3 separate regions of the Homo sapiens genome follow, and regions 1 and 2 are each linked to region 3. The links come from fine-mapping of genetic effects on gene expression. A gene starts in region 3. Each other region holds a variant in brackets. All regions are shown on one strand. Distances are from middle to middle. Region 1 overlaps UPP2 (uridine phosphorylase 2). Region 2 overlaps UPP2 (uridine phosphorylase 2). Region 3 holds the start of PKP4 (plakophilin 4).

Region 1 (2,761 bases), 340 kb after region 3:
GTTTTCATCAATGATTGTCCACACTGTAGGGCAATCAATGGATGATGCCTATTCCCTATGGTAGGAGCCACTTACAGCTTAGTTCCTTAGAATTGCCACCCTGTGCAGGAGACTCTTCCCCTGTCCCCTGGCATGCCTGCCTGTGCCTCTTTTGAGGGTTGCAGTGCCCAGAAATGTGATGGCTTCAGAGTTATTGCTTCAGAATACAGCCCTGTGCAGAGAGACAAACATGGGAAGGCAAATGGGATGCCTATGCACATACGCCCTCATCAGTGTGTGCCCAGCTGAGTCCAAGGGGGAAATGGTCTGCATCTTCCCTAAAACTGCAAATCATTCCCCTTTCATTTTGTCTTAGGGCACTGTGTGCTTCCATAACTGTTCACATGTTCTAAATGCAGGAGAGTAATTTACAAGAGCTCAGTAGAAATGCATTAGCAGCTTTTCAGCGAGCTTATTATGGTGTTAAACAGCAGCACTTTAGCAGTCCTGAAAATTAGCCTCTGTGTACTAAAAGCTCAACATTCCCAAAGCTGGGTAAGGGATAGAAGAAGGAAAATTGCCGTGGCGGGGGTGAGGGGTGTTAACCAGTTACAAAGTAAAGAGAAAGGAGGGGTGCTTTGAGTATTTTCCCCCTAATTTGAATACCTAAGTGGTAACTAATAAACAAAAATGATGCTGCATGCTGTGTTCTGCCCTGGGGGCTTTTTCCAATAATGAACTCATACCTGGACACCTTGTTTGATTGTGTAAGAATGCGAAGCTGGAGGGAAAAAGAACTCCTACATGTAAAAGTTCCCACTTTTTTCTCTAGCCTGCAATGACTAGCTGAAATGCAACCATGGATACTTACACTGATGGCGAGCACAGGCCCGGTTTTGTACATACAGTATCTGTCTGTCCCAGCACAGATGTCTTTTATGTCTTCTTCAGCTTCCTCAAACCCGAGCTCCTTGTGCATAAACAGTGCAAATGCTTTCATTCTGTTGGGGCTCCCACCGACACAGACAAACTGTTAATAAAAATAAACAAGGGCCTGCCATAGTAACTGGGATAAGAACCACGGGTCAGTTTCAACTCTAATGTTTTTATTTTACTTTTTAGTTAATTTACTTAAGAACACGTGTAGATGTCATGGTTTATGTTCCATGAATTAGCTAATTTGCATCATCAACCTGTAAATAAAGCAACAGATGCAAAGTTTTTTGCACTAAATTTGTAAAGAAAATCACAAAATCAAAATAAATGTTGATATTATTCAAGGAGGTGTTTCCTGGTGTTTTTGTTTATAGTGAACACCAACCAGCATCTTAAATTGACATAGACAGCCTATTGTTGAGCATTACCATGACATATGCTTAGGATGTAAGTTCTGAGGCCACGGCAC[G/A]TGAGTGATGTAAGAGCAAAAGGAGAACCACCAGTTTTAGGTATGTTTTCTGATTCCCCATCCCCCATCATAAATTTGTATTGTGAAATGGAGTATGTGAACTTAAAATTTTAAAGGAATCATGTCAAGACTTTTAAATTTCTTATTCAGAAGAAATTCTCATGGAACAAGCCTTATTATTGTAAATGTGGGATCTCCCTGTGGCATTTCATCAATTCCAGTGATTTATTTTTGTTTTTGTTTTATTCACATTTTACCTTCTCTGAAATTAGGATAGGTGTTGCAGTCAACGGTGTCTAATAGAAGATGGTAATACAATTGTCTGGCAGTTACTCATACAACAGTCTGTTTAGGGGTACCCTAGCCCCAGGTACCAGGAGTGGGAGAGGTGGACGCCAGGGAGAGGAGCAGAGAAGCACTACGGGTCAGCAACAAGAGGGTGAGCAGTAGCAGACTCTCACACCCAGGAGGAAGCACAGGCCACAGCAAGGTGGCAAGAGTCAAGTCCTCCCGGATTCTGAAGTAAGTGGTGAGGAAAATGCAGAGAGAGAGAAGACAACATAGTGGAGGGTCTGCCCTTTGAGGTTAGGTAAACCTGGCTTTGAACTCCAACCCCATCAGTGAGTAAGAAACTTGCTCAGTGTCACACAAATAATCGATGTGCCTCAGAACATCTCCAAAATAGGAAAAACACAGTACCTCTCAGAGAGTTTTGAAAGAAGAACGTGAGATTGCATATGGCAAAGGACATTGCACAAGTCCAGACACGTTCTCAGTGATGTGCAAATGGTAACCATTATTTTTTATATCATGTAGCAATTTTCTATTCCTGCTTCTGAGCTTGTTACTTTTCCTGTATTGCAGAATTTAGTACACAGGAAGCTGGTTTGAGTCCTCTAGTGAGGAAAAGGCAGTTGGTGGTATCTGGCTGATGTAGGCAGCATTGGACAGAGGACTGGGAGGGCTGACAAGGTCCATCACAGGGATAAAGAATATCTGTCTAACGAAATACCTAACTGAGGTTATAGAATAGGCGGCCCCATTCACAAATGATTTACTCTAACTATTGGGTGGTCTGAGTACATGATGCATCTTGTTTCCATTTAGCAATAATTCCTGAGCTATTCTCTTTCTCAATTAGGGGTGTAATTAACCCTGTATCCACGCCCTCTGCTTCTCTTCTACCCTTAATATTGTCTTTTCTCTGCCTTCTTATGAGTTTCTCTGATGAAGCCTTAAGCTAGTAATGAACTGCAATAGAAGTCTGCCATAAAGACTGGTAGCAAAGAGGTTAAGACCATGGTTTCAGGTGAGTTTTAAACTAGTTATTGATAATTCTTAGAATTTTCTTCTTTGTTGGTATGGATAGTTAAGACT
Region 2 (2,761 bases), 350 kb after region 3:
TTAGAAGCTTGTCAAGTTCTGCAAAATAGGCAACTGGAATTTTAATGGGGACTGCATTGAATCTGTAGAATATTTTTGGTAGTATAGTTATCTTAACAATATTAAATCTTGCAATCCATAAGCATAGGATGTCTTCCCATTTACTTAGAGCTTTCAAAATTTCTTTCAATAATGCTTGTTGTTTTCAGAGTATAAGTTTGCACTTCTTTTGTTTATTTGATTCCTGTATATTCCTGTAAGGTCTATATGTCCCACTTCAAGTCGTACAACATTGATTAAAAGTAGATTTTTAAACATTAAATATGTTTACTGTAATCCTTAGAGCAACCACTAAAACAAATAAGCAGAGAAACAAAACTGAAACAAAACAAAGAGATATAGTCAAAATATAACAGATAAATAAAAATGGAATATTTAAAAAATGTTCAACTATCCCAAAAGAAAGCTGGAAAGAGGAATAAAGAAATGGAAAGCAGAGCTTAATACACAGAAATCAAATATAAAATGGTAAACCTAAATCCAAACATATCAATAATTACATTAAATGCAAAGTGTCTAAGCACCCATTTAAGACACAGAGATTTTCAGAATGAATAAACAAACATATGATCCAATTATATGCTGTCTATAATGATAATGATACAGGCAGATTAAAAGTAAAAGAATGGAAAAATATAGACCATGCAAGCTTTAATCTAATGCTGGAATGACTATATTAATATCAAAATAGGCTTCAGAGCAAAGAAAATTACCAGAGACAGAGGGATATTCCATAACCATAAGAGTCAGTTTACCAAGAAGACATAACATTCAAAGTGTATAAAAACTAAAAACAGAGCTTAAAAAATAAAGCAAAAACTGTCAGAAATAAAGTATTAATAAACTCACAAGCATAGTTTGAGACTTCACCTCTCTCAGTAATGCATAGAACTTATGGAAAGGGAATCGGCAAGACTTAAATGTTAGACCTAAAACCATAAAAACCCTAGAAGAAAACCTAGGCAATACCATTTAGGACATAGGCATGGGCAAGGACTTCATGTCTAAAACACTAAAAGCAATGGCAACAAAAGCCAAAATTGACAAATGCGATCTAATTAAACTAAAGAGCTTCTGCACAGCAAAAGAAACTACCATCAGAGTGAACAGGCAACCTCAGAATGGGAGAAAATTTTTGCAATCTACTTATCTGACAAAGGGCTAATATCCAGAATCTGCAAAGAACTCCAGCAAATTTACAAGAAAAAAACAACCCCATCAAGTGGGCGAAGGATATGAACAGACACTTCTCAAAAGAAGACATTTATGCAGCCAAAAAACACATGAAAAAATGCTCATCATCACTGGCCATCAGAGAAATGCAAATCAAAACCACAATGAGATACCATCTCACACCAGTTAGAATGGCAATCATTAAAAAGTCAGGAAACAACAGATGCTGGAGAGGATGTGGAGAAATAGGAACACTTTTACACTGTTGGTGGGACTGTAAACTAGTTCAACCATTGTGGAAGACAGTGTGGCGAGTCCTCAAGGATCTAGAACTAGTCCTCAAGGATCTAGAACTAGAAATATCATTTGACCCAGCCATCCCATTACTGGCTATATACTCAAAGGATTATAAATCATGCTGTTATAAAGACACA[T/C]GTACATGTATGTTCACTGCGGCACTACTCACAATAGCAAAGACCTGGAACCAACCCAAATGTTCATCAATGACAGACTGGATTAAGCAAATACACCATGGAATACTATGCAGCCATAAAAAGGATGAGTTCATGTCCTTTGTAAGGGACAGGGATGAAGCTGGAAACCATCATTCTCAGCAAACTATCACAAGGACAAAAAACTAAACACCGCATGTTCTCACTCATAGGTGGAAATTGAACAATGAGAACACTTGGACACAGGAAGGGGAACATCACACACTCGGGCCTGTCATGGGGTGGGGGCAGTGGGGAGGGATTGCATTAGGAGATATACATAATGTAAATGACGAGTTAATGGGTGCAGCACACCAACATGGCACATGTATACATATGTAACAAACCTGCAGGTTGTGCACATGTACCCTAGAACTTAAAGTATAATAAAAAATATTTCTTCTTTTCCAACATTAGCCTTTAATTCTATAAATTTCCTCTCAGCACTCTACCCACATTCTGTAGATATAATATGTTGTATTTTCATTTTTCCTCAGTTCAAACTATTTCCTGCCTTCCCCGGAAATGTATATCCTGCTTTGTTTGAGTGGAGAATTTTATAAATGTCCATTAAATTTGAATAGATAACTTCTAAGGATCTTCCACCGTATGTATTAATTGTCTGAATCTTTCTAGTGAGTATGGCAGAGATTGATTAGCTGTTCACCTAAACAGTTTGCTCTTCTTTCTGGGCACCCAGCTAAACTTAACATCTCAGCCTCCTTTCCAGTTAGACAAGGTCATTTGTCTGGGTTCCAGTGACTAGAATTTGAGCAGAAGTAATGGGTACCATTTCCAGTCCTAGCCCATAGAAATCTCCCATCCTACAAGGAGGATGTATTGGTGACCCTACATATTGTCGCTGTCATCTGCTGGACAGGTGTTGACACACTGGGAAACAGCAATTTATGCCTTGAAGGAAACAGTAACAATTATGGAAGGAGCCTGGGTCCTCGAATCACCAGATGTAGGGAAACCATCCATCAACTAAGAACTCCCACCTTGTACCTAATGTGAGTGAGAAGTAAACTTAAATTGTATTAAGCTACTGAGATTTT
Region 3 (2,761 bases):
AACCAGGCACTATCCAAACCTTGCACACCAAACTTGCCAACAGCCCTGTGCAATGATCAATAACCTTGGCTACACAGTCATCGGCCCCAAATTCACGGTCCTGAAGACCAATGCAGCAAAAACCCAGACGAAAGGCTAGCTGGAGCCCCAAAGAATTACCGCGCTTCCCCTCTGCCGCATGGAGGGAAGCTATGGGAGGAGAGGAGTGGAATGAGGCTCACCAGCTCCGAAGATGCTCCGGTGACCTCTGGCTGCGCGGCGAGAGCTGGGGAGGGAAGGCGCTAGGGCAGCCGCGGCGGGCTGTGTGGACTCTGCCCCTGGTGCATTCCTCGCATTCCTGCACAATCTGTCGCCAGCCCAGGAGCCGGCAGCGCGCGTCCCCCGCTGTACACACACACCTGACTACCGCTGCGCCCCGAGCGGCCACGGCCGCCGCGGCACCTCCACTGCCCGCGCTCGCGGTGTGTCGCACTCAGCCAACACGCAGCCAAATCCCGGCCCCGCCGCTCGCTCTCCGGGTAGCGGTCCAGGGGAGAGGGCCGGCAGCCTCGGCAGCGGGCGGGGATACCAGATCCGCCAGGGAGGTGCCGCAGCTCCGCTTCAACTCCTGGCAGGGAGAGGAGGAAGCGGCGGCGCAGGAGGGCAGCGGCGAGGCTCGGCGCTGGGGAGCCGGGAGGGGTGGAGCGTGAGGATCCGCGGCCGGTAGAGAGGGGCGCACTAGGCAGAGGGGTGGGCAGGACCGGCAAGGAGTACAGGACTTCGGGGACAAACGCAAGACCGCGCGGGCAGCAGGGGCGTGGGAAGACGGGGAGGGGACCAAGGTGCAGGATCTGGGGCTAGAAGGACAGACAGCCGGCCCCGAGTGCTGAGGAGGGCGGGCGCCCAGTGGTGTCGAGGGCGACTTGGGGCGCGCGGCGGCAGGCAGCGGGGAAGCCGCCGCGAGGGCGTCCAGCAGGGCTCAGCGCGGCGCTCAAGTTCGGGGCTGGGAGCTCTGAATCCGAACAGCCCAGCGTGGGCAGAGGTCGTGCGCTGCGCGTACGGGAGACCGGGGAGAGGAATCGCCGGGAAAAGCAAATGGAGGGTGAAACTTGTGCGCCTGCCGGGGGGAGGGGAGCAGCAGGCGAGTGCGGGCAGGAACACGAGGCGGGGCAGGAAAGCCGCGGCGGCCGCGAGGCGCTGGGGACGCGGCAGCGGGAGGGAGGCCCCCGGCCCCCGGCGCGCAGGTCCTGGCCCTGGCGCGTGTTCGGGGCGAGGGCCGAGGGTCTCGTGGGCAGGAGTCTCCGCGCCCTCCCGCGAGCCCACACACTTACTTTCCAGCTTAGGCAGCGGCCGTCGTCGCTCCAGGGATCAGGGACATCGGCGCCGAGGGGTCGCCGCTGCGGCACCCGAAAAAATTAAAAAAGTGCCGCGGCGGCGCGGCTGCCCGCCCCTCCCTCCCCCACCGGCCCCCGCCCCCGGAGCGGCTCTCCCACCACCCCCGGCGGCGGCGGTGGCCAACTTGCCCCTCTACCCCTTGCCCATGGTGCCGCCTCCGCGGCCGGCGTCGACGCGGACTCAGCCCCGGAGCCCCCTCTACTGCCCAGAGGCCGCCGCCGCCGCCCGCCCCGCTGCCAGCCCTCCCGCCCGGCCAGCCCCGGGCTCCCGGGAACGTCAGCACGCCGCCGTCCCCGGGCCAGCTCCCGCCACCCCATTGGCGGGAAGGAGAGGGCTGGCCCTCCCCATTGGCCCGGCCCTCATATTGAACAGGCCAATGGGAGCTGCGGTTTCAGGTCGCCATAGAGACCGATGCTGTTCAGCGCGAGAGGGCCTGGAGAGGGTGGGTGTGAGAGAGAAGGTGTCTCAGGTCTCGGGCGCGGGAGGGGGTGGCGGAGAGGACAGGGAGATTCCCCAGCGCTGGCTCTGAAATCTGGGGCAGGCTTTCCTTGCCTTACTGCCAATCCCAACTGTGCCTGGTAGGGTTTGTCCCTGGCGTCAAAGGTAGGAACAGCTGAGCCCTTAGATGTACCCCTGACGGCGAGAGCCCAGGAGTGGGCGTTTCACTTTTCCTGCGTTTGGGGAGTCCCTGAGGCTATGCCCTTTGACCTTTGACATGTGTGCAGCTTCTGCTTCTCCAGGTGAGTTTGCACCCCATCCCTTCCATCGCTGCTTCCTCCTGACGTCACTGAGCCACCTAAATCCTACTTATGTTTGTTCTCTGCAGCCACTCCCCCTTCCCTGGGGTGGATCTTTCCTCAACGTTTTGGGTCCTCAAACTCATAACTCTTCTGAAAGACTCAAAGAGGATTTCCTTTGAGGATATTTTGGTAAGGGAACGAGGTGGCGGATTGTATGATAGATGCCAAAGCGTCAACACATGAGCTAGCCTGTTCCCTGATTCTCAAAGCAAACCTCTAATCTCCCTGTGGGCAGATATTTATTAAACACATCTGTGTGTACATCCCGCACTATGAGCTTGACAGGTGCATGTTCTTTCACTTGAGAGGTTACAGGCTTGTTAAAGATAGAGGAAACAGAAACAATCCTTCACACCTTGTGATGATTTCACAAAAGAGTAAGGGAAATGGATTACAGTTGATGGATTTTGTTTTCTATTTTCCAGTATCTCTTTAAATTTGATATGGAAATAACCTGAGGCATGAAATCAGTACACGCAAAAATCTTGAGCTTTAATAATGTCTTCTACTTTCATTTAAAATCATTTTGTGGTGGTTTATCAATACTAATTGTTTTTTGTCAATAAATTTTATGTTTAGATATCACC

The links. PIP is the estimated chance that this variant, and not a neighbour inherited with it, causes the effect.
Region 1: its variant is fine-mapped to the expression of PKP4 in whole blood (INTERVAL, PIP above 0.99).
Region 2: its variant is fine-mapped to the expression of PKP4 in whole blood (TOPMed, PIP 0.98).

The regions. Positions count from the first base shown.
Region 1 is chr2:158,113,349-158,116,109 of GRCh38, reverse strand. It overlaps UPP2 (uridine phosphorylase 2), which reads right to left. Exons shown (of 7, transcript NM_173355.4): 3 at 851-1,009. Among named protein-coding and RNA genes, the nearest start is that of UPP2, 13 kb to the right of the region's middle. RefSeq lists an enhancer at 1,542-2,741. The variant G/A (reference allele first, on the strand shown) is at 1,385.
Region 2 is chr2:158,109,348-158,112,108 of GRCh38, reverse strand. All of the region lies in intron 2 of UPP2 (uridine phosphorylase 2), which reads right to left. Among named protein-coding and RNA genes, the nearest start is that of UPP2, 8.9 kb to the right of the region's middle. The variant T/C (reference allele first, on the strand shown) is at 1,647.
Region 3 is chr2:158,455,768-158,458,528 of GRCh38, reverse strand. It overlaps PKP4 (plakophilin 4), which reads right to left and starts at 1,577. Exons shown (of 22, transcript NM_003628.6): 1 at 1,311-1,577. It overlaps CCDC148 (coiled-coil domain containing 148), which reads left to right and starts at 1,776. Exons shown (of 14, transcript NM_138803.4): 1 at 1,776-2,114. The coding sequence starts at 2,090. LOC124907900 reads left to right here and starts at 395. Exons shown (of 1, transcript XM_047446754.1): 1 at 395-1,398. The coding sequence starts at 1,075. The coding sequence ends at 1,398. RefSeq lists an enhancer at 218-297 and silencers at 578-797, 828-887, 908-957, 1,208-1,257, 1,478-1,847 and 1 more.